Regions from separate parts of the Homo sapiens genome. Here regions 1 and 3 are each linked to region 2. Evidence: fine-mapped expression QTL. A gene starts in region 2. Each other region holds a variant in brackets. All regions are shown on one strand. Distances are between the middles of the regions. Region 1 overlaps AGAP3 (ArfGAP with GTPase domain, ankyrin repeat and PH domain 3). Region 2 holds the start of AGAP3 (ArfGAP with GTPase domain, ankyrin repeat and PH domain 3). Region 3 holds the start of ATG9B (autophagy related 9B).

Evidence for each region.
Region 1: its variant is fine-mapped to the expression of AGAP3 in pancreas (GTEx, PIP above 0.99).
Region 3: its variant is fine-mapped to the expression of AGAP3 in whole blood (INTERVAL, PIP above 0.99).

The regions. Positions count from the first base shown.
Region 1 is chr7:151,106,956-151,115,127 of GRCh38, forward strand. The region is part of intron 1 of AGAP3 (ArfGAP with GTPase domain, ankyrin repeat and PH domain 3); the gene reads left to right. Among named protein-coding and RNA genes, the nearest start is that of AGAP3, 25 kb to the left of the region's middle. RefSeq lists an enhancer at 1,223-1,885. The variant C/A (reference allele first, on the strand shown) is at 5,122.
Region 2 is chr7:151,083,398-151,091,569 of GRCh38, forward strand. It overlaps AGAP3 (ArfGAP with GTPase domain, ankyrin repeat and PH domain 3), which reads left to right and starts at 3,078. Exons shown (of 18, transcript NM_031946.7): 1 at 3,078-3,675. The coding sequence starts at 3,345. TMUB1 (transmembrane and ubiquitin like domain containing 1) reads right to left here and starts at 96. Exons shown (of 3, transcript NM_001136044.2): 1 at 37-96. It overlaps LOC124901778 (a long non-coding RNA gene), which reads left to right and starts at 5,606. Exons shown (of 2, transcript XR_007060595.1): 1 at 5,606-6,768. RefSeq lists silencers at 1-249, 2,798-3,047, 3,098-3,187, 3,554-3,623, 3,984-4,253 and enhancers at 4,474-4,633, 6,131-6,641, 6,642-7,151, 7,277-7,782, 7,783-8,172.
Region 3 is chr7:151,023,319-151,031,490 of GRCh38, forward strand. It overlaps ATG9B (autophagy related 9B), which reads right to left and starts at 1,176. Exons shown (of 14, transcript NM_001317056.2): 1 at 556-1,176; 2 at 369-412; 3 at 127-191. The coding sequence starts at 1,105. ABCB8 (ATP binding cassette subfamily B member 8) reads left to right here and starts at 5,132. Exons shown (of 16, transcript NM_007188.5): 1 at 5,132-5,292. The coding sequence starts at 5,198. It overlaps LOC124901777 (a long non-coding RNA gene), which reads right to left and starts at 4,940. Exons shown (of 3, transcript XR_007060593.1): 1 at 4,645-4,940; 2 at 3,489-3,694; 3 at 1,677-1,715. RefSeq lists enhancers at 2,087-2,691, 3,297-3,900, 3,901-4,505, 5,111-5,715, 5,155-5,464 and 1 more. The variant G/C (reference allele first, on the strand shown) is at 3,691.

The sequences.
Region 1 (8,172 bases), 24 kb after region 2:
ACATCAGTCCTGCAAAATTAGTGCAATGATTTGAACACTTTATTGCATCTTCTGTTTATAAAAATATTTTGCGGCCGGGCGTGGTGGCTCACGCCTGTAATCCCAGCACTTTGGGGGGCCAAGGGAGGTAGATCACCTGAGGTCAGGAGCTCGAGACCAGCCTGGCCAACATGGTGAAACCCCGTCTCTACTAAAAATACAAAATTTAGCCGGATGTGGTGGCACGCACCTGTAATCCCAGCTACTCGGGAGGCTGAGGCAGGAGAATCACTTGAACCCGGGAGGCGGAGGTTGTAGTGAGCTGAGATCGTGCCATTGCACTCCAGCCTGGGCGACAAGAGCAAGACTCCGGCTCAAAAAAAAAAAAAAAAAGTTTTTGCTTTTGGGGCCAGGCACGATGGCTCATGCCTGTAATCCCAGTACTTTGGGAGGCCAAGGCAGGCAGATTGCTTGAGCTCAGGAGTTGGGAGGCCAGCCTGGGCAACATGGTGAAAGCGGTCTCTACAAAAAAAATACTAAACCTAGCTGGGCGAGGTGGCACACCTGTAGTCCCAGCTACTTAGGAGGCTGAGGCGGGAGGATCGATTGAGCCCAGGAGGTCAAGGCTGCAGTGAGCTGTGATGGCGCCATTGCACTCCAGCCTGGGTGACAAAATGAGACCGTCTCAAAAAAATTTTTTTTTTTTTACTTTTGTAAAAAATACAAAGGCAAGTGGAAGGGATGGTGCTGCTGACAGGGAATGAATCTCATACTTGGAATGCATTTTAGAGGCTCATTGGGTTGGAAGAGGCAGAACTCTAGCTCATGGGACTGCAGCTGGCCTGCCTGTTCAGAGAGAACCACATTTTTAAATGTCGAAAGTGTAGGCGATGGGTCAGTTATGAGAAAAAGGTGCAACACGGCATAGAGCCGTACGATGCTTCATATTCTGAGTCTGGAGCCCCCACCGTCCCACCCTGTGGTGGTGGCCCACCTCCTGCCCCCACCCTTCAGGCCATGGGAGGGCTGGAGATGCTGTGAGGTGTAGGATCCTCTGGCACGGCACCGGCCCATGCGGGGGGTGCAGCACATGCTGGTCGCGTTCCTCTCCAGGGAGGAGCTGCTAGAAAGCAGAGCTAAGCCCACAGTTGCTGTTGCTGGTCAGAGCTGGAGTGGCGTCACGGGCACTTCCAGGGTCTTAGAACATGGCCAGATGGGACAAAGCCAGGAGGCCAGATGGGGGACATGCTAAGGGACCGAGTCTTCGAGGGGAGGGCCTTTGTCCTGTCCACCATTGCACCCAGCACAGAGCTCATGGATAGACAGGAAAACAAACTGCTCTCAAGTACCATCTGTAGTACTACAATACCGCCATGTCACCGGCCTGGTGTCGAAAGGCCATTTTCGGCTGGAATGACAGCCACTCCCACCCCCACCCTGGGGTAATCTCAGTTTCCCTGCTCCTTGCACTGCTCTCGGTCCTGTGGCTCTCTCTGCCACCCGCACCCCCACCAGCACCTCTGCCGCCTTCTCTCCCTCAGCTTTTCCCTGGGGAGGAGAGGACCAAAGTCACTGGGGAGCTCTCAGACCGACATCCTGACCTCTGGAGATGGGGCAGAATCCCCGGGCCTCAGAGCAGCCTTCGGAGGGTCCCAAGGATGTAGGCTGGGTCCTACGCCAGTCCAGACTGCCAGCCGCGTCACCTTGAGGCAGGGTGGGGCAGAGACTTCAGTCTGCTTGCCCTGAATGCACTTAGTAAGCACTCAAAAAATAATGTGAAATGATGACTTAGAGGCCCAAGCTCCAGCCTGGGATTCTGGAGTCCTGGGCCCTGCCCAGGCTCTGTCACTGCTGGGCTGTGTAACTGCAGGCAAGTGACTTCCCCTCTCTGGGTGTCAATGCCCTCATCTCTAAAAGGAGAGGATGAACCAGAACACGAGTTCTGAACCTGGAACCCATGGCAGGGATTAAGGGGACTCGGACCTCCTCAGAAAACACCTGTGTGTTCTTCCCAGTATGCACTAGCTTTTCTGGAGAGCTCATAGCTTCCTAGGGCTGTGGTAATAAACCATTGTAAACAGGGTGGTTTGAAACAACCTAAGTCTGTTCCTAGCTGGCTGCGGTGGCCCATGCCTGTAATCCCAGCACTTTGGAAGGTCAAGGCCAGTTGATCACTTGAGCCCAGGAGTTCTAGACCAGCATAGGCAGCATAGTGAGACTCCCACCTCTGTAAAAAAAAAAAAAAACAAAAAACAAAAAACAAAGAAAACAAAGAAAAAATAGCTGGACATGGTGTTGCATGCCTAAAGTCCCAGCTACTTGGGAGGCCGAGGCAGGAGGATTGCTTGAGCTTAGGAAGTCGAGGCTGCAGTGAGCTGTGATTGCCTGGTTAACAGAGGGAGACCCTGTCTCAAAAACCAAAAAGTTTACTGTGTCACAGTTGTGGAGGCCAGATGTCTGAGATAAAGGTGTGGGCAAGGCCACGCCCCCTCTGAAGGCACTAGGGAGAGATCCGCCCCACACCTCTCTTCCTGGCTTGTCGATGCCGTCTTCTCCCTGCATCTCTTCACATTGACTTCCCTTGGTGTCTGTCGACATGCCCAAATTCCCCCCTTTTATAAGGACACGAGTCAGATTGGATTCAGGGCCCACCCTACTCAAGTATGACCTCATCTTAATTACATCTGCAACAACCCTATTTCCAAATAAGGTCACATTCTGAGGTCCTGGGGGTTAGGACTCAGGGCTCTCCAGGGTCCTCCGTATCTCTGAGGTCTCTTAGAGGGGAGATGGAGGGACCAGCCCAGGAATCAAAGCCAAGCTGAGGGGGAGCTGCTAAGGTTTCATGGGCTGACTGCATCTGCCTGGCTTTCTGATGTGGAGAGGGCTGGTTTCAGTGATCCCAGCGTCCACTCTGGCTCTCCCTTGCGCAATAGGAGCAGCTCCTTCTGTTGCTTGCCCGCTGCACGCCAGGCACCATGCGGCCCTCCATGCTCACAGGGCTGGCCTGCACAGCACCTTTAGCTGGAAGCTGGGCCATTCCTAATTTACAGACAGACCTGAGGTTAAGGAGACCGTGGCTGGTCACCCACCAATAGGTGCCAGAGGCTGAACTTGAATCCAGCTTTCTCAACTCCAGGGTGCGCCGTGCCTTTCAACTTGGGGCCTGTGCAGATTATTTTGCCTGTGCCTGTGACTTCTCTCAAAAGACTGGCCCAGCCAGGGCCCATCTCTCTTAGGCCTTCCTCCCCACAAAGAGGCCAAAAGCCCTGGGAGCACAGTGCATGCTCAGCAAAGACTTCCACTCATTCACTCGGGGAATCATGGCCACCTTCATGTGCCTGGCAGAGTTCTGTTGTGGGGGCACTTGCTGACAGTGGCAAGTGTTAGATGATGTTAGCATGGTCACTGAGATGGTCAGCCTCCCAAGGAAGGGATGCTTCAGCCACGGTCCAAATGCCTTCAGGGACAAGCAGGGCAGAGGCCCGGGAGGTGTCAAGGCTGGATGGGGATGGAGGCGGGTCCTGGGGAGGGTGTCAGGTGAGAGCAAGCAGGTAGTCAGGAGCACACGGGGCACTGGAACAGAATAAGGGGATTGGGTGCCATTCTACGCCAGCTGGAGAGCCATTGCAGGGCTTTGCTGAGAGGTGACCAGGTTCTGGTCTGAAGAGGTCCGCCCCAGCTGTAAAGGAAATCACTTGGCAGTGGTGGTGATGGAGGCTGGAGATGGGAGACCCCTAGGAAGCTGATGTGGTGCTTAGGCCCGGGAGGATGGTGGCTTGCCTTTGAGTTGAAGAAAGGAGCTGGTGATGGATCTGGGCCACATTTAGGAGGGAGCGCCACCAGGACTGACACGGATTGGGCTGGGGGAGTGGTAAGGAAGGGAATGGAGGGTGTTACTAGCAGGCTTTTGGCTTGTGCGGCTCCAGAGCTCATGTGGTGCTGTTGAAAATGGGGGATGCTGGAATGGAGCTGTTAGGGGTGGAATTTAGGTCCATGGCTGCTGCTGCAGCAACTCGAGTTGTCTCGGGACAGCTGCTGGGACACTTAGGGAGGACTGTGGCCCCACTGGGGAGGCATCCTGAGCGCTCTCCCCCCGCCCCCCGTCTTCTCCTCTGATTCCCTAAGCTCCAACTTGGAGAGCCTGCTGGACACCAGCCAGTCCTGGGGGGCGAAGGGGTCTTGGTGTGGCCCCCACTGCCTCCCGGGCTCAGTGGCGGGTGTGTGGCCAGCCCTAGCATCCTGCCAGCCTTCCCAGCCACTGCCTCAGCCCCGGCTGCAGGAAGATGTTTTGCTGCCACCTTGTGGGCAAGAAGGGCCTGACTGTTTGGGAGGGCCACGGTGGTTCTGGGACCACACCTGGCTGCTGGTGGTTCTGCTCCACACCCTGCGGAGCTGGCCACAAGCTCCGGCTTTCAGGAGAAGGCTTATCCATCCTCCCTCATCTCCTCGAAAGAAATCTGCCAACTCCCTGTGGGCCACGTGGGCTGCAGCGGGCACAGCCAGGGCTCACCAGTGGATCAAGCAACACACACCTGGAGGCGACCAGTTCCCACATCCTCAGGACCAGCTTTCTCTTTCTGGCAGGGTCTCACACCTCACACCTGCCCAGGGGTGTTCTCTCTCCCCGTCATGACCCCCCCGGCCCCTCACCCCCCTGTGCACACGCAAGCAGGGCACCCGAGGCCCAGGCCAGCACAGAAACTGGGCATAACTAGAGTCGGCTTCTCCTCCTGACATCCAGGTAGTCCACAGAAGGGGGTCTTGAGCCCGGCTTCTGCGCTCTCTGGCTCCGGGGCAGGCTGTGTTCGTCCTGCCCCAGGATGCACACTGCGGGCATTTGTGAGAGATTTCCTCTTAGTCCCCCAGAAACTGCCATGGAGCCTCTCAGCCCCTGAGAGTCACATTCAGTCCAGCGTTTCCGGTGGCCTTAATAAACAGAGAACTGACGTGAGGGCTTGTGTTGTGGGATTTCAGTACTGTTCGTGTAGTCCCAGCCTGGAGCTTTTTAGGTTTGTCCTAATTTCCTTCGGGCCCAGTAGGTAGTGGCTGTCTGTGTCGAGCACAGCTGTGTTTGCTGCGTGTCTTTGGAGCAGAATCTTATCAGGCACAACAGAGACCTTATCTCTGACCCTGGGCTGA[C/A]CCAATGAGCAAAAGAGGTGTGTGCCTGCAGCTGTTCTCCTTTTCGGGGTCTTTGACTGGCTTGATGTCCTGAGACATTTATGTGGGAGCAGGTGCCCTTCCCTGTCTAGTTTCTCCGGGTCAGGAAAGTTTTCTGGGGAAAAGGACTGGGAAGGAGAGGGCAGCCAGGTGAGGAAGAGAAAGCTGTTCTGGGTTTGGGAGTTGACCCAGGTGGCACTTTCTCCTTGGACTGATTCTGCAGGTGCAGTGGGACTACATGTCTTCTGAGACTGTAAGATGTTCTTTTGGGGACTGGGATTGCTGCCTGCCTTCCCCGAGACGTGTGTGTGTGTGTGTGTGTGTGTGTGTGTGTGTGTGTGTCCAGCATGTGTGCAGCTGGGGCCTTAACCCCCTTCTTTCCCATCCTACTGTTCTCCCACTGAAAGAGGCAGCTAGGTTCTAAAGTGATCCATCCCCTGTCGGATACCGTGTCCCCATCCCCTCTCCGTCTCCAGAGGTCGGCTCCCATAGCTGCTGTCCTGTGCTTGCTTCTTATTTATTGAGACAGGGTCTCACTCTGTGGCCCAGGCTGGAATGCAGTGGCTCCATCTTGGCTCACGGCAACCTGGACCCTCTGGGCTCAAGCGATCCTCCCACGTCAGCCTCTCAAGTAGCTGGGACCACAGGCTCGTGCCACCATGCCTGGCTAATTTTTCATATTTTTTTTGTAGAGACGGGGTTTCACCATGTTGCCCAGGCTGGTCTCCAACTCCTGGACTCAAGTGATCTGCCTGCCTCGGCCTCCCAAAGCGCTGGGATTACAGGCGCGAGACACGGTGCCTAATTTTTTGTATTTTTAGTAGAGATGGGGTTTCACTACGTTGGCCAGGCTGGTCTCGGACTCCTGACCTCAGGTGATCCGCCTGCCTCAGCCTCCCAAAGTGTTGGGATTACAGGTGTGAGCCACCGCGCCCGACCCTTTGCTTGCATTTTCACTGGCTTGCAGGATGAGCTTGTGAGTGGGCAGCCTTATTCTTTGGCAGAACAGCCATTCCCTGTTGTGCGTGAGAGAGAGGGCAGATACACGTAGATAGGGAAGTCAAGGCAGAATGTGTTTCCTTTTGATCTGCAGCTCAGTGACGTTGGCCGGCTTCACTGAGTTGTGTTCTTGTCTCTGTACCTGCCTGGGGACCTGGGAAGGGCCCCTCTGCTGGTACTTCCATTGTGGGGGGAACATGCATCCCATACAGGAAGAAGCCGTCTTCACCAACGCTAATAACTAGTCCCACGGAAATACAAACTCACCACCAGGGCCTCTCCAGGCCTGGGAGATCCAGCCCAGGACTTGGGAATTTCCAGCGCTCTTTTCTGCAGGGAGCACCTAGGATGGAGAGGCCCTGCCTTCCTTAGGCATTCCCACTCAGCCCCTCAGGAATGTGCCACTTGTATCTCCCACTTGGCTCTGACCAGGTCCATGGAATTCTAAAGCTGAAAGGGACGCTGGGAGTTGGGCTGGACTGGGGGTGGAGGAAAGTGGGCAGTATTGTCTTTTTAAAGGAAATGCAAGCCCCTGGTCCCTTGCCACTACTTAAACTGGTTTCTCCTGATCCGTGGCTGGTATTGAGGCAGCCAGTGGTTTCTGACTTTATGGATGACCGGAAACTGGCTGGGCTTCAGAGCCTGGGAGAGGACTGATGTTTACAATGCAGTGTCAATCACAGCCGGGGAGCTCTTGCCTCCAATTCTGGGTGAGCTCTGGGTTTACTGGGTGTCCAGGCAGCCCACAGTCATGAATTGGAAGGGCCTCGGAGCTTGGAGGAGTGTTTTCATTTACAGAACGTCAGGCTGGAGCCAGTACCGCAGGCTACCACTTGATCTCAGCCCATCATCCCGACAGGAGGTGAGACCCAGTGAGCAGCAGGGGCCTGGAGAGGTCCGGGCCTCAGAAGTGAGTCACTCACCCAGAACTGCAGCGGAGGTTATCTTTGACTTCTCTGCTGCCCTTAGGCAGGACGCTTAACTCAGTCCAGACAGATGAGTATCTTCTGGATTTTATAATCTCCAAAGAAGACAGCCTCAGTCATCAACAGAAACCGACTGTAGCAGCCAGCAACTCTCGACCTCAGAATGTCAGAGCCGAAACTAAGACAGGACCACCTCGTTGAAGCTCGCGTGCTGCAGACGAGGACACGCGCGCAGACCCGGCATGGCTGCCTCTGACGTCTCACTCAGGCTTGTCATACTTCTGGGCCTCATGTTCTTGGCTCTTCTGGCTCTTCCTTTGAAGAATGAGAAATGGCCCGCTTTTCTCCAAAATGGGGCCCAGTGTGTGGTGGACTGAGGACTGTTATTTAGTTGGCCTGCTCGTAATGACAGCTCCTCACCTACCTGCCGGATCCTAGGAGGCGCCCTGGGCTGGAATTTCCTGTTTTCGAGGGCTCCCAGGGGCTGCCCCAGCAGGCCGGCTCCCCCGCGCCGCGCCGCCGTTCCCGGGCGTTCCAGGCCAGACTTGCCGCCTCTCTCTCCGGGCTGGGCTGACTCCCGGCCTCTCCAGGTCTGGGCTTGCCGGCCGCGAGGTGGAGGAGTTGAGGGACTCGGTCGGCCCACACCAGGTGCCCAGAGGCCGGAGGTCCGTGCGCCCCGGCCGCGGCCCCGGCCCGGGCCCAGCCCCGTGCCCCTCGCCATGGGCCTGGCCCGCGCCCGCCGGCCCTGAGCATGGAGCGGGGCTGGCCGCAGGGGGACAGCTGTCCCGGGGAGCGGCCCGCCGCTTGCCGCCGCGCCCACAGCGTCTGCGACTCGCTGGACCTGCACGGCGCCTCGGCCGGCCGCGCTGCCGCCGCCCTGCAGGCCGCCCTCTGCGCCGCCAGTGAGCAGCCGGCGCGGCCGCGGAGCGTGTGCTCGGGCGGCCCGGAGCCGCCGCCCACCGGCGCCCGCGGCCTTTTGCTCGGCCTCCTGCGCCCGCGCCTCGGCCGCCGGGGCCTGGCGCCCTCGGGACCGCCCGTCTCGCCTGCGCCCAGCCCCGCGTCCAGCCCCGCGCCGACCCGGCGCAGCCGCACCCGCGGGGAGCCGACT
Region 2 (8,172 bases):
CGGCGGGGTGGGCGCGGTCACGGCGCGGGGACTCACCGCCCGGCTCCCCCAGCTCCATCGCGGCCCCTCGGGCACTTCCGGGCGGGAGGCGCGGAGGTCGCAGGCACCTGAAGCACCCCTCCTTCCCCGCCGCCGCGGCCCGGGGCATTGTGGAACTTGTAGTCCGGCGCCGCGCTGTCCCCGCCCTCCGCCCTGCGGACCCACGTGTGGGGCTCCACCCGCGGTTCTCTGCGCCTGCAGATCGCGAAGGGGCTGGCGGGGGCGGTTTTGGGGGTTGTGCTACCCCCTAGAGGTTTGGGCGGCAGCAGCGTCCGCCCCCTCCCCTGCCAACAGCCAGGGCATCTATCACACCAGACACCGACGTCAGCTGGAGCACGTCAGAGTACCCGTGTTCGTGATGCAGTGTGGAAGGCTCTGAGGAACTCAGGTGGCCCCTACTGTTATGTCAGAGTGGACGCCAGAAGGCACTTTGGCCACCAAAATTAATTCTTCAGCCCAGAGCCCAATATCCATGGGCTGCCCCACCAGGCTGGCTAGGGATACCCATCCTCAGGGCTGCCCCTTTCCTTGGTCCCCTCCTCCACCTTCGGGACTCCACAGCCCCTTCAGGGCTGTGGAAGAAGCATAGACCTTGGAACCTGGCAGAAATCCTGATCCCTTATCTTGTGCTTCTCAGCTATATGACCTTGGGTGGGTTATTGAATCTCTCTGAACATTAATTTCTTCCTCTCTAAAACACACCTCGTAAGTCAATCATAAGGAAGAAATTAGATGTTTTATTAAAAAGTGTAAAAACTAAGGTACATGTCACACAGTAGCTATTCGCTCACCTCCACCCAAACCTGGTCTCAGGAGTCGGGTCTTTGGTGTGTTACTGTGTGGATGGCATTGAATCCCAGGCCTGTGGATATCTGGATTTTTCCCTCTGGGCTCCTGTAGCCACAGAGATCTCACATCCTGGTTTTTACAGGCCAGTCTTGATTTAAAATAATCTATCCTAGTCTTCCCATGGTTCTTGCCTACTGTGGGAGCAAGTGGCCCAAATATTGCCTTAGGAATGTCAGTCTAGATTGATACCATACAGAACTAACCTACCTCTAGTTCCATCCCTCCTGTTCATTCATTTATTCTACTAACATATTTTTTAAAAGATGTACTATGGCCAGGCGCAGTGGCTCACGCCTGTAATCCTGGCACTTTGGGAGCCAAGGCAGGCGGATCACTGAGTTCGAGACCAGCCTGGCCAACATGGTAAAACCCTGTCTCTACAAAAAAAAATACAAAAATTAGCTGGGCGTGGTGGCGGGCGCCTGTAATCCCAGCTACTCGGGAGGCTGAGGCAGGAGAATCATTTGAATGCGGGAGGTGGAGGTTGCAGTGAGCTGAGATCGAGTCACTGCACTCCAGCCTGGGTGACAGAGTGAGACTCCGTCTCAAAAAAAATTACACACACACACACACACACACACACACACACACACACACACACTATATCCCAGGCATTGTGCAAGATACTGGGAATAAAATGGTGAATCAGACCCTCTTCCTGCCCTCATGTGGCTCCATATACTAGTAGAAGAGCTAGACGTGTGAACAGCCCAACAGTGCTATAACACGTGTGTGCTAGTTGCTGGGGCAACACATTTGAGGAGCTCTTTGCTCTTAGTGTCTCTCTTGGGAGGTATACCTGGTGCTACTTCCTGCTGTCAATTCTAATTAAGCACCTAAAAGAGATGTTGGATGTTACTTTTAGAATTATACAACATCAGAACTAGGTTTTATGTTCAACCACTATATTTCGCAGATGAAACCCAGAGAGGGCACAAGATATCCTTAAGCTTATGCAGGGAGATAGAAACACAGGTTCCTCAGGAGCTTAGGAGACCCTGTGTGTTGATTAGCTTGCACCAGGTGCTTTGGAAGGTACAAGGAACTCGGGAATAGTGACTGGGTTGGTTCTGGGGCTGAGTTGTGTGGGTAATCAAACAGTGGACAGCTTCATGCTGGGAAAAGATCCAGCTTGGCCAGGGAAGTGGAAGTGTGCGTAAGAAGGACGATGTGTGTCACTGATGCCCTAGGATATCTGGGGGTAGCAGATACCCTGCAACATCTCTGGCAGATTTATTGGCTGCGGCCTCTGCAAATGTCACCTCTTGTAGGTTTTAGGAAACGTGTGTGTGTTGGTGGGGGGGAGGGGGCTAACAGAACTGCAGCCCACTTTGGCAATGGGACTGCAGAGGAACTGGGACATTTCAGGGAGCTCCCTGGCCCTAGAGGGAGTGAAAGGACAGGATGGACAAGGGGTGAGGACAAGAAAAATTGAGAGCCACGTGGGCTTTGGTTGGTCTCTCCAATGGGATGAGTAGGGGAGAAAGGCATATACTATTTCATCCCTCCCTCTTCTTCCTCTATGTACCAATGGGGTCGGGTAGCATTTAGCTAATCTCCCAAGTCCGGCAGGGGGAGGGTCTTTTAGGAGAGCACTGCTGCAGCCGGCAGTGGAGAGCCTGGGCAGGGAGACAGGGAGAAAACTCCGGCAGCAGGGTGGTCTCTAGGGCTGACCTCGGAGCCTGGGGACAGGGGAGCCTATGCCGCACTGAAGGCGGGACGCTGTAAGCGAGGAGCAGCTGGGCCTGGGCGGACTCCTCGGCCAATCAGCCTCGGTCAGCAGCACCCTCAGGCGCAGGGCACTGTTTGGGCATTGCCTAGAGATCCGACACCCCGCCCAGATCAGCGCAGGGAGGCGAAAGCGACAGCCGGGCGCGGGAGGAGACCAGGGCAGCTGTCCCCTCCGCGAGGGTGGCCCTCGAGGCAATGCGGGTGGGGGCTGGTGAGGAGGCGGAAGGGCCGAGGCTGAGTGGGAGGGGCCGGGGCGCCAGGGCTGGAGCGCGCGGCTCGGGGGTGGAGGCTGCAGAGCCAGCGAGCGAGCGAGGGGCGGGGGCGCCCGGGCCGGCGCGCAGGAGGGGCGGGGGCGGCGGGGAGGGGGGCTCGGGCTGCGTGTGCCGGAGCCGGCGGGGGCGGCGGTGCGTGCGCATGACGCGGGGGGAGGGCCTGGGCCGCGCGCTCCCGGTCCCGTTGTTGTTGCCGCTGGAGGCTGCTCCGAGGCAGCGGGATCACGGCGCTGGGAAGCGCTCGGCAGCGGCGGCCACAGCGTGCGCGGCGGCGCCTCCTGGCCTCGGCCTCCGGCCCCCGGCCCCCGGCTCCATGCGCTAGCCCCGCGCCGCCAGCCCAGTAGTCCCGGCCCCGCCAGCCCCGCGCTCCCGCTCGCCGCTGCCGCCGCCGCCGCCGCCGCCGCCTCCGCCGCGCCGCCCCGGGCCCGCCTCGGGCCCCACGGCTCCGAAGCCATGAACTTCCAGGCGGGCGGGGGGCAGAGCCCGCAGCAGCAGCAGAGCCTGGCGGCTCCGGGGGGCGGCGGCGCTGCCGCGCAGCAGCTCGTCTGCGGCGGGCAGTTCGGCGGCGCGGGGCCCGGGGCCGGGGGCGGCGGCGGCCCCTCGCAGCAGCTGGCCGGCGGGCCCCCCCAGCAGTTCGCGCTCTCCAACTCCGCGGCCATCCGGGCCGAGATCCAGCGCTTCGAGTCCGTGCATCCCAATATCTACGCCATCTACGACCTGATCGAGCGCATCGAGGATTTGGCGCTGCAGAACCAGATCCGGGAGCACGTCATCTCCATCGAGGGTGAGCGGAGCCGGGGGCTGCGGGAGCCGGGGCGCAGTGGCCTCTCCGGCGCCGGCCGAGGGCTCCACAGGCCGTGCCTGGCCATGCTCTCCCTGTCGGGGGTCCTTGCGCGCTTGAGGACCAGGCCACGAGGTTTGCCGATCTGTGTTGCAGAACCGGCGGGCAGCTTCGCCATATCTCGTTCGGGGACACTTTGGGGTTGGGGGTTTTCTGCTGACTGTGTTCCAGGGCGCGAAGGTGGTGTCGCTTGGGGGGGCCGGGACCAGATCTGTCCAGGCCTGGCCGGGGAAGGTGGGCGCGGCAGAGGGCTTCAGCTGCGGGGAGGTGGGGTCGTGACCGGGGAGGCTTCTTAGCCGCTGCCCGGGCCCTGCTCCGCAGTGGGGCGGGGGATCGGAGCCTCGCGTTAGTGGATGGCAGCCTTCCCGGGCCCAGCGCCCGCAGGCCCGGAGGGTGGCGCTCGCCGCGGCGCCCTCTCCCGACGCACACCCCCTACGCCGCGGCGGCCAAGCGGGAGCGGGCCGGGCCTGGCGCTGGGCTGAGGCTCAGCGACCGCGTGGGAGGCGCCGGCAGGTCCATCCGCGCTTTGGCCGGGTCATGAGCCTGACGGGGATCCGCGGCTCCTCGGTCTGGAGGCAGCTGCTGGGCAGCCGGGTGCTGACCGACCGCCAGGGACACCGCACCCGGAGTCGGGGACCGGAAACCCCCGGCCACTGCGCTGCCTAGCGCTTTTTTCTCTGGGCCCTTAGGCCCTGGACTTTCGACCGCTGAGGGCACAGGAAGTGGTGGCACGCTGCTGGCAGATGCCTCGCAAGCCCTGGTGTGGTGGGTGCTGGAGGCACCCGCAGGCACCCCGGTGGCATGGTGACCTTCGAGCGGGCACGGACAGATGGGCCTCACCCTGGGCCATCTGCTTCCTCCCCCAGCTCTGTTTGAAAGGGGACGCCCACCGGCAGGTGGTGGGTTTGGCCTCAGTGGAAATGCAGTGAGAGCCAAGGCCTTTTGCGATAACATGGAGTTATGGGCAGGGGCCTGTCCCTGACTTGGGCCTTAAGGTTAGGGCCCCACTCCCAGCTTCATCTGCTTGCCTGAGGTTCTGGGGGATAGTGCACCTGAACACCTCCCTTTCTGCTTTCAGAGGTCCCCATAGCCGGGGAAGAAGTACTGGGTCTGGGGGGACCCCATGTGGTGCTGGGTTCTATCTTTTGTTGTGACATGCCAGTCTGACTTCCTTCTGCCTTTTCCCAACCCGTTCTTATTTCTTTCCTCTCAAGGCTGAGTTCTCTGTGAACTAATTAGGTGACAGAAAAAACTCATTAACGTGGATCTGAGTAAATGGCCTGAATCACCGCTGTGGCTGGGGACTAGGAGATGGCATTTGTGCGAGCCCTGGGCCCCAAAGACAGGAGATGACCAATTTTTCCTCTTAGATCTGAAGAGGGTGGAGGCGGGAGAGACATCGTTGCTGCAGCTTCACTGTCCTTGGAGGAAGTAAAGACATTCCTGATTTGCTCCAAGCTTACCTTCCCCCAGCTCCTTCTGGAGGGCGACAAGCCTCGTGGGCCGGCCACAGGAGGGTGGGGGCACATCTGCTTCCGAGCTTTTCCCAGAGCAGGGAGAGGTTTCCGGGCTCCCCTGGCTCCAGCTTGATGAGCAGCGACCCCTCCTCCCCAGCTCAGGGGAGCCTCTGGTTGAGCATCTTTTGTGATGTGAAGGCTGATTCCTGGGGCGCCCTTGAGTTTTTTTTGCCTGATCTTAAATTTAACACAACAGGCAGAATTTCCCCTCCTAGAGCCCTCCCCTGACCGACTTCTCCATTGCGGTTTGGAAATACCCCATGGTTCCGTCTACTAGGCCTGGAAGCTCGGCCTCACCCTCGTGAAATCCCGGGAGCCGGTGTCTCACTGTCACCAGACCGACCCAGCCGCGGCTCACACATCCGTTCTCAGCCCTGCTGTTCCCACTCCTGGGCCCTGCTGCCCTGCTGCCCTGCTGTCCCTCCCTCCCCCCTGCCCAGCCTCTCCTGGCACCGTCATCTTTATCCACCTCACCCGTCTTGCGTTCCCACTTTTCTGCTGTAGGCAGTCTTCAAAAGAAAAAAAAAACCACTCCTTCTCCAGTTTCTGCCCTATATCCTTCCTGCGATAGAACTCCTCTCCATCTGCCAAACCATATTGCTTCTGTCCTGCGAAGCGGTGTCCCCACCTTCTTTCTGCGAGGAGGGAGAGGCGCAGACTCCCTGGGCGTTTCCGAGCACAGTCTGAGGCTGGACTGAGACCCAGCCCTCCACCCCCAGCCCCAGGGCGGAACAGACCTAGGCTGTTACATAAACACAGTGTCAGCTGGGAGCCGGGTCCTGTGTTTCCTGGGGCTAAGCCTCTCGGTGGAAAGGGGCGGCAGTTCCGAGTGTATAACAAAGCCTCCCTCACTCTGTTTAGACTTCGGTGAAGGGTTTGTTTGTCCCAGCTCTGAAGGTGACGTGGGACCTGCGGTCAGGATCCATCTGGCTCTGAGGAAGTGCAGTGGGCACTTGGGCCTCCTGTAGTCTCTGCCACTCACAGTCACTTCTGACCCCGTGTCCAGGACAGGAGGAAGCAGGGGATGTTTGGCTTTCCTGTGTTTCAGGACAGGATTTGAGGAGAGGGAGACCATTTTGAAAAGTTCCTTTCCCACCAGAGGCCAAGGAAAGAGAAAACCTGCCCATTACTTGGCCTTAGGGAGTGGAAGAAGTACAGCCTTCAGCTGGGAGGGAGAGCTGGAGGGCTCACTATGTGCAGAGCCTCTGAGCCACCTTCACCTCACTAGTGGGGAAACTGAGGCTCAGAGAAGGGAGGGAGCCAAGCGGATACAGCCAGGGAGAGTATAGGCCTTCAACAGGAGCCCGCTTCCGGCTTGGCACTCACCTGCAGTGAGCGCTCCCTGACAGCTTGGGTTTCCTGGCTGAGTCCTAGAAAGAGGGATGCAGGAGAACGAGGGCCTCAGTCCAAATGGGGACACTGGGCACGTGGAGCGCAGGATGTTGTACCAAGCTAGCCAGGAGCCCCAAAGGAGCCCGGGATCTTTCCAGGACCTGCTGGTCCCAGTCGTTGTGTGCAGGTGAGGGCCCGGCACAGGGGAGGAGCAGGGGCTTGGGGAGGGCCTGGGATCCCTGCTGGCAGTTCCCAGATGGGGGGGGGGGGCTCCCGCCTGGAAGTGGAAGTGGACCTGACTATTAGGTGTGTGTGCCATATGGCTACTATTATGTGTGCCGGAGCTGGGCTTTGTCAGCTGGGTGACTTACTCAGGTTTCTCCATCGTTTTCCCACTAGGGCTTTTTTTTTTTTTTTTTTTTTTTTTAAACAGTTACTTCGAGCATTCCAGCCGGCCTGGCCTGGCCAGCAGAGCGTTCTCACTGTCACCCTTACCCCACTCACTTTCATTCAGTTCACAGATTGCCTGCCCTGGGCTGTGGGCTTGGTGACATCCTAAAGGGACTAAGGTAAAGAGATGTGGGGGTTTCTTGTTTGGGTCAAGCCTCAGCTAGACAGAGAAGGGGCCACAGCTGTGACTGCAGTTGGGTGGCAGCTCAGAGGGAGAGTAAGACGGTGCATGTGGCCGGGTACAGTGGCTCACGCCTGTAATCCCAACATTTTGGGAGACCAAGGCGGGCGGATCACGAGGTCAGGAGATCGAGACCATCCTGGTTAACATGGTGAAACCCCCGTCTCTACTAAAAATACGAAAAATTAGCCGGGCGTGGTGGCGGGCACCTGTAGTCCCAGCTACTCGGGAGGCTGAGGCAGGAGAATGGTGTGAATCTGGGAGGCAGAGCTTGCAGTGAGCTGAGATCGCACCACTGCACTCCAGCCTGGGCAACAGAGCAAGACTCCGTCTCAAAAAAAAACAAAAACAAAACAAAACAAAACGGCATACGCCCTGGCATCCCACAGCCCTCAGCCCTTAGGCACACCTGGGGTTTTAGTGTTTGTGTCTGTTTCTGTTCGTCCTGTGACTTGATCCTGGAGGACTGGCATGATGGTCCCCATGTTTGTGCCAGGGTGCTCTCTTGAGCTTTCCTTACTGTTCCTGGGTGGGCACTCCCTGGCCGGGCCCTGCATTCCGCCGTGGGCCCTGCTGCACCACACACTGCTGAGGTTCCCTTCAAAGATGAGGACTGGGGGGGTCTGGGATGGGTGCCGGGGACATGCATCTGGAGCCAGCCCAGGCCCCTCTGGCAATTCGTTGGTTTAGGGACTGAGTGTCTCATGGGGGCCTGGTTGCTTATGCAGGACTTTGCTCGCAAGAGTTCTAGCAATTCTGAAAAAGAGCATAACCATGTGGGTGCTAGTAGCCAGGGAAAGCTTCATTTGTTCCAGATACATTCATTTAGCTCCTACTGTGCGGCCCAGTTGCATCTAGCACAGTGAAAAGCAGACAATCAAAGGAGAGACAGGGAGCGAAGGGGCCAGAAGGTCTGGGCTTGGTGCACCTGGAGAGAACGACTCAGCCTGTAGGAGGTGC
Region 3 (8,172 bases), 60 kb before region 2:
GCTGAGCCCTTGGGCTGCTCGGGAAAGCATGGGATGGAAGCAGCTGGCACAATTAAGGAAGCAAAATGACAGAAGGAAGCCATGGGCCCAGGGGACCGAGTTCCGGGCCCGGGCTAAGCGTCTCACCCCAGCTGGAAGACATCCTCCAGCAAGATGCAGGCAAAGCCATTCCGCTGGTGGTAGCTGTAGATGTGGCTGCGTGTCAAGGAACAAGCCTGAGGCACGGGGGGCCTCTCCTGAGGACACCTCCCCTCAGCCCCAACAAGTCTCCCACCCATGACGCCCTCACGGAGTCTCCCTGCCAAGAACAGTGCCAGCTCCAAGAGGACCTTCCCATGCCACCTCTGCAGGCCTAGCGCAAAGGATATCTTGGTGAAGAAACTGTCCAGGTTCTGGATGTGATGCCAGGAGCCTGGGCACAGAGGGGAGAGTGTCAGCCCCTGGCATGTGATCAATTCTCCACGTTCTCAACCCGCTGCCAGAGGCCCAGCCTGGGATAAGTACTGGAGCTCCCAGGCACCACTAACCCTCTCCCACCCACACCCACACACATACCTCGGAGCCCTTCAGGGACATGAAGCAGGGGTTGCTGCTCCTCCCCGTGGATGGGTGAGTCTTGGGACCCCTCAGGGTCACAGTCCTCCAGCCGCTCATAATCCTGTTCAGGGATCAAAGGGCCTACCCGCAGCCCAGGAGAGTCCTGGGGGCACTGCTGTGAGGGAGTGGGGGTTGCCGGGGCCAGGGGTGGGGTGGAGTGGGATCCCCAGGAGGGAGATGCAGAGGCAGGTGTCATTGCAGGTTGAGCCTGTGTTGGGGGGGTGGCTGGGATAGGGAGAGCACTGTGGCAAGACTGAGAAGCCCCTGTCCCCTGTAGCACTGAGCAAGGGGGCCCTGCGGTGGGAGGGGAAAATGAGGAGGGGGAGCTTCTTGTATGAGGGGCAGGGGACAGAGAGAAGATGGAGATCCTCCCTCCCCCAGGTCCCCGGCATGAAGGAGGAGGAGGAGGTGGCAGTGGCATGGGGAGGAGGGGCACCGATCCGGGCCCCAGATCTCCCCACCGCCCCAGCCGCCTTCTTCTCCCCCCCCAGCCCATTCGGCTCACCATCAGGCCACGGCTTCTCCAGAAAGGTTGGAAGGATGGGAGCTGTTGTTGCTTCCACAAAGGTCTGTGACACTGAGCTGGGACTTCAACAGGAACAATGACAACAACATTACTAGGTGACTCAGCCTAGGCAGGCCTCAGGCGTCCCAGCTCTCAGTCACCTGTCTGATCACTCACACCCCTTCCAGGGCAACCTGAGGCCAAATCCCTCAGGGCCTGAGAGGGGCATCAGTTTAAGAGGAGGGGCCAAAGAGCACATTGAGATGAGAAGATTCCTATTATCTCCATCTTCAGACCTTGAATGAATGAAAGATAAAAAGAACAGCAGCCAAAATGACAAAAGCAAAAAGCAAAATCGTGTTAGAGCCAGGTGTGGTGATGTGTGCTTGTGTTCCTAGCTACTCAAGAGACTGAGGTGGGAGGATGGCTTGGTGCAGGTTACACTGGAACAGTATAGGTTACAGTGAGCTAGATCCTGCCCCCTGCCACCCCCCCCAAAAACATCCTATTAAAGGATTGTAGCAGGGCGCAGTACCTCACACTTGTAATCAATCTCAGCACTTTGGGAAGCCGAGGAAAGAGGATTGCTTGAGGCCAGGAGTTCAAGACCAGCCTGGGGAACAGAATGAGAAGACTCCATCTCTACAACAAATCTTAGGACCAAGATGTTAACTATTTCATTTCTTAAGAGTGTACCTCCCCCACTTCCCTCCACACACACACTACAGTGATCAACAGAGAAATGTTTTGTGACCAAAACAGAAAAGAAGAAGTAAAGGGGCCAGGCATGTTGGCTTACACCCGTAATCCCAGGACTTTGGGAGGCCCGGGCGAGAGGATCACTTGAGGCCAGGAGTTCGAGACCAGCCTGAGCAACTTAGGGAAACACCATCTCTACAAAATCTAAAAAACAAACAAAATAATTTTTTTTCTTTTTGAGGCAGTCTCACTCTGTCACCCAGACTGGAGTATAGTGGCACAATCTCGGCTCACTGCAACCTCCGCCTCCCAAGTTCAAGTGATTCTTCTGCTTCAGCCTCCTGAGTAGCTGAGACTACAGGTGTGTGCCACCACACCCAGCTAATTTTTTGTATTTTTAGTAGAGATGGGGTTTCACCATGTTGGCCAGGCTGGTCTTGAACTCCTGACCTCGTGATCCACCCGCCTTGGCCTCCCAAAGTGCTGGCATTACAGGCGTGAGCCACTGCGCCTGGTCAAAAATAAATTTTTTAAAAAGAATAAGAAAAGGTTGCATGTTTTATTGGTCTGAGGTGCTAAGGAAGAGAAGAGGGGAGGCTGACTTTGCAGCCAAGTTGGGGAAAACTAAGAAGAGGAGGTGAAGAAAGGAAAGGCAGCTATCTTGGATTTGAGAGTTGGTTTGGAGAACTTAGAGTAGAAAATTGGGGTTCTCTGAAAGTTCCATTCCGTTTGCATCCTTATCATTTTCAACTGTGACATTCTCTCAAGTCCGGATCCCACTTCTGGGACCCCCTGAAAAGCATCAGGGCTGAATCAGAAGGGAGGACAGCTGTGAGTCTGGGACTTGGAAGGATAATTTGGATACCCAGGGAGGAGCTGAACTGAGTTCCTTGTTGTCACCTCAACAAGGAGGAGGAGACCCAGGCAGCTGGTCTGGTGGCTTGCCCAACGCCATTCTTGAGGCCCTGAATCACCAGGTTTCCTTCTAAAGCCCATTACTGAGATACTGACTCAGCCACCAGGTGTCAAGGTCTCTAGGGCTTAGGCCTAAGGGCTGATGTTGGGGCCAGTACCCCTGAAATGGCGATATGGACACTGTGCTTCCCAGATTGTTCACTGGAGGCAATCATGGAATCACCCACAAAACTTGAATCCAGATGTGCCTGATTTTCTCCTTCTGTGTGGGGTATTGTAGTAGTAGCTCAGGTCTTGCATGCCTTTATCTCAGAGTAGGAGGCAGAGCTATGAAAACAAGACCCTGTCCTTCTAGAGGTAGCAAAATGGAATCCCACATTGCAGAGGGGCCAGGAAATTCCCATAATCTTTCTGAGACATCTGTCAAGATGGGTTATGTGGGGTGTTGTCTAGTCTCTCCCCCACCTCACTCGCCCAATGTCACTCAGTATCGTGGCTATTCCACCATAGTCACAATAGGACCCCCCCATACACCAAGAGCTCCCCAGCTCAACCCCAAACTAATCCTGGGACATTGTCCTACCTAGTTTCACCCTGAATTCATTCTCATTGACAGCCTCCCTACCACCACTCCCAATTCAAGTCGATTTATTTTAAAGGGCACTTTTCCTTGCCAAGCATTTGGAAGGGAAGAGGACAGATGAATAAAACAGAGCCACTACCCAAGAAGCTGCAGCCCAGTGGGGAGACAAATACGCAAACAAGTAATTACAGGGAAGAAACGAGTGGTGCAAACTCTTTGGCAGGAGCCTGAGGCAAGTCATTCTGACCCGGGTGAGGAAGGTATCTGCGAGGCAGACAGATCTGAGGCCGCGCCTTGATAAATTACAGGCCCTCCATACCAATAGTTCTCAATGGCTGAGGCGTAGGGCAAGAGTGTCAGAATCACCGGGGGAGTTCTTCCCCAAGTACAC[G/C]TGACTGTGGGGAAAAGAAAGAGAGATCAGATTGTTCCTGTGTCTGTGTAGAAAGAAGTAGACATAGGAGACTCCATTTTGTTCTGTACTAAGAAAAATTCTTCTGCCTTGAGATGCTGTTGATCTGTAACCCTACCCCCAACCCTGTGCTCCCTGAAACATGTGCTGTGTCAACTCAGGGTTAAATGGATTAAGGGCTGTGCACGGTGTGCTTTGTTAAACAAATTCTTGAAGGCAGCATGCTTCTTAAGAGTCATCACCACTCCCTAATCTCAAACCACTCCCTAATCTCAAGTACCCAGACACAAAACACTGAGGAAGGCTGCAGGGACCTCTGCCTAGGAAAGCTAGGTATTGTCCAAGGTTTCTCCCCATGTGATGAAATATGGCCTCGTGGGAAGGGAAAGACCTGACCGTCCCCCAGCCCGACACCCATAAAGGGTCTGTACTGAGGAGGATTAGTAAAAGAGGAAGGAATGCCTCTTTGCAGTTGAGATAAAAGAAAGGCTTCTGTCTCCTGCTCGTCCCTGGGCAATGGAAATGTCTCGGTGTAAAGCCTATCTCTACTGAGATAGGGGAAAACCGCCTTAGGGCTGGAGGTGGGACAGGCTGGCAGCAATACTGCTTCTTAAGGCATTGTGATGTTTATGTGTATGCACATCAAAAGCACAGCATTTTTTTTTTTACCTTGTTTACGATGCAGAGACGTTTGTTCACGTGTTTACCTTCTGACCTTCTCTCCACTATTATCCTATTATCCTGCCATACCCGATAATGATCAATAAATACTAAGGGAACTCAGAGGCTGGTGCCGGCGTGGATCTTCCGTAAACTGAACTCCGGTCTCCTGGGCCCATTTTTCTTTCTCTATACTTTGTCTCTCTGTCTCTTTCTTTTCCAAGTCTCTCCTTCCACCTAATGAGAAACGCCCACAGGTGTGGAGGGGCAACCCACCCCTTCACGTGACAGATGTCCCAGCAGTTCTGACGCACCTAGGAGAGCGGGGTGGGTGGCAGGGCATATGTACGTGTTTTGAAAAAACTCCCAGTCGATTTTTGTTCATTCCTCCCCCAAAACCCGCGTTCTACACGCCCTTGAGACGACGGGACATCTAGAGATCCTGGAGCCTTGGGAAAATGGCCCGAGGTCGGCGGCTGACGCGTTACTATGGATACTCCATAGCTTGGAGGGCCAGTCGGGCCACACCCTTTGGACGTCACCCGGAGCCCACAGGAGCACCTGGCAAAAGCCAGGCCCACTTCCTGCTCGGCTCCGCCCAGAGCAGGGGGCGGGCGGATAGGCGATTCCCTCCAATCACAGTTCCAAAAGGAGGGGGCTGACAACATATCCTCCAATCACAGCTTGAAGTGAGATTGATGTGTCTTTTCACCAATCACCGCCAAGGCGCGAGGGGGTTGTCGGGATGGGGGCGGGAGCCAACATAGAGCCCTCAGTGGGATGAGGGTGAAACTGCTATTGCCGGCGGCTCCTGTTTTACCGCGTCAGCATGCTGGTGCATTTATTTCGGGTCGGGATTCGGGGTGGCCCATTCCCAGGCAGGCTGCTACCGCCCCTCCGCTTCCAGACATTCTCAGCTGTCAGGTAAAAACGGAAAAACCTACTCAGAGCGGGCCATTGACCGCCCGGCAGGGCAGTGCCGGCCCGCCGGGAGATGGAGTCCACGAGCTTGCGCGAGGCTTGCTGGGAGCTGTAGGCCAGGCCTACCGGGGTGGAATGTCACTCCGCGGGTGTTGGCCTCAATTATTTATAGTGACACTCCAGTCGCCAGCAGGAGGCTCCTGCGTCTGCAGCCGCGTGTCAGCCAGAAGGAGGGGACGCTCGGGGTCAGTGACCACGCCCAGTCCGCACTCCCGACCGGGGGTCCCCTTTCCTGGCCCTGGAGGTGATTGCGCGATTTGGACGAAAATTCTTATTAGTATGAAGAGACATTTAATGTAGTGGTGCTTCCAGGATTCAAAGTGAGTCGAAGAAGAACTAGAGATGTTCAGCAGGGATAAAGAGCCAATCTAATAGGCCGGGCGCGGTGGCTCGCTCCTGTAATCCCAGCACTTTGGAAGGCCAGGAGTTCGAGACCAGCCTGGCCAACATGGCAAAACCTCGTCTCTACTAAAAAATACAAAAATTTGCCGTGATTGGTGGCACGCGCCTGTAATTCCAACTACTTGGAAGGCTGGGGCAGGAGAATCGCTTCAACCCGGGAGGCGGAGGTTGCAGTGAGCTGAGATCATGGCCACTGCACTCCAGCCCGGGTGATAGAGTGAGACTCTGCCTCAGAAAAAAAAAAAAAAGAGTCAATCTAGTAACTTGTACATGTGTGTTTTTCGCAAAACACTCTACACAGGTTGGTCGAGAGAGAGAGACAGACAGACAGACAGATGGGAAACAAACAAGGACCCTGAAACTACAACTCGAATGTAAATGCTTTATGAGAAGGGACTGATTCCTTTTTTTTTCTTTTCTTTTCTTTTCTTTTCTTTTCTTTTTTTTTTTTTTTTGAGACAGAGTCTCGCTCTGTCACCCAGGCTGGAGTGCAGTGGCATGGTCTCGACTGACTGCAACCTCTGCCTCCTGGGTTCAAGCAATTCTCATGCTTCAGCCACCCAAGTAGCTGGGATTACAGATGTGCACCACACCCGGCTAATGTTTGTATTTTTAGTAGAGACGGGGTTTCATCATATTGGTGGGCAGACTGGTCTTCAACTCCTGACCTCGGGTGATCTGCCTGCCTCGGCCTCCCAAAGTGCTGGGATTACAGGCATGAGCCACCTCACCTGGCCATCCTTTCTAATCCTAGAGTGAATTACTTGGGGGCCAAACAGATAGAAGATTCCCAAGGGCAGGTGGATGTGGAGTTGTGTCATTTGGAAAGCCCATCTGACTGATGGAGGGCAAGAGCTGGATCGAGCTGGAGCTGGAAGTCTTGGTACTGGGAAGTAATCCACATGCTCTTGGCAACGACCAAGACTTTCTTAGAGTCTTAGTTTGGAGACAATGCAAGAAGCTGGAAAAAGACCATGCTAAATTATTGAAAGGTTTAAAAACAGTTCTTAGGAAAGAGTAAGGGTGTTGATGTTATTTAAACCAGAGAGAAACCCAAGGAAAGACATAAAATAATATTCAAGTATATATGTGTTCATTAGTCAGTATTTTTCAATAGATTATGAAATGCATTTAGTTGGTCAGGACCATTTAAAAGTAAATATAGGCTGGGCACGGTGGCTCACGCCTGTAATCCCAGCACTTTGGGAGGCCAAGGCAGGCGATCACCTGAGGTCAGAAGTTTAAGACCAGCCTGGCCAACGTGGTGAAACCCCGTCTCTGCTAAAAATACAAAAATTAGCCAGGCGTGGTTGCACGCACCTGTAGTCCCAGCTACTCGGGAGGCTGAGGCAGGAGAATTGCTCAAACCTGGGAGGCAGAGGTTGCAGTGAGCCGAGATTGTGCCATTGCGCTCCAGCATGACAGAGCAAGACTCCGTCTCAAATAAATAAATAAAAGTAAATGTAGGCCAGGCACAGTGGCTCACACCTGTAATCCCAGCACTTTGGGGGGCCAAGGCAGGCAGATCACTTGAGGTCAGGAGTTCAAGACCAGCCCGGCCAACATGGTGAAACCCCATACAAAACTTAGCCGGGTGCGTTGGCTCACGCCTGTAATCCCAGCACTTTGAGGGGCCGGGGCAGGCAGATCACTTGAGGTCAGGAGTTCAAGACCAGCCTAGCCAACATGGTGAAGCCCTGTCTGTACTAAAAATACAAAAATTAACCAGGCATGGTGGTGGGCGCCTGTAGTCCCAGCTACTCGAGAGGCTGAGGCAGGAGAATCGCTTGAACCTGGGAGGTGGAGGTTGCAGTCAGCCAGCATAGCACCACTGCTCTCCAGCCGGGGCAAAAGAGTGAGACCCTGTCTTGAAAAGAAAAGAAAAGAATCAGAATACATGTTAAGAATTAGAGAAAATGTTATTTTGTGAAGCATTTCCATTTTGTGTGGCATGTATGTGTTCATTGTACTGGGTTGCAAGTAAGATATGTTTCTTGCTGTAGGCCACAGTAAGTCTAAACATTTGCAAAACCCTGTAGTAGTTAGGTCAGATTGTCCTGCACCTCTAATGAGGGCATGCATGTGCTCAACAAGCATAAACATTTGCGGAACATCTATTATGTACCGGAGTTCTGCCAGTGCTGTCTAAGATATAATTTCCTGCCTTTCAGAAACACATGGCGTAATGGGAAAACTGGACAGTTACACAAGGCAGAAGGAGAGTAAGCGTCTCTATCTTTCTAATAGAAACAAGAACACAGTGGAAAACAAGACATAAAAACCTGGCAGTTGGAATGGGGTGGGAGAAGGCCTCATGTAGGCAAAAGGCACAGGCCTTCCTGAAAGCAGGGGAAGGATGAGATGAAGACTGCAATTAGAAGGGTCTAGGGATGTGAAAGGCCATGATGGTAAAGAGAAAAG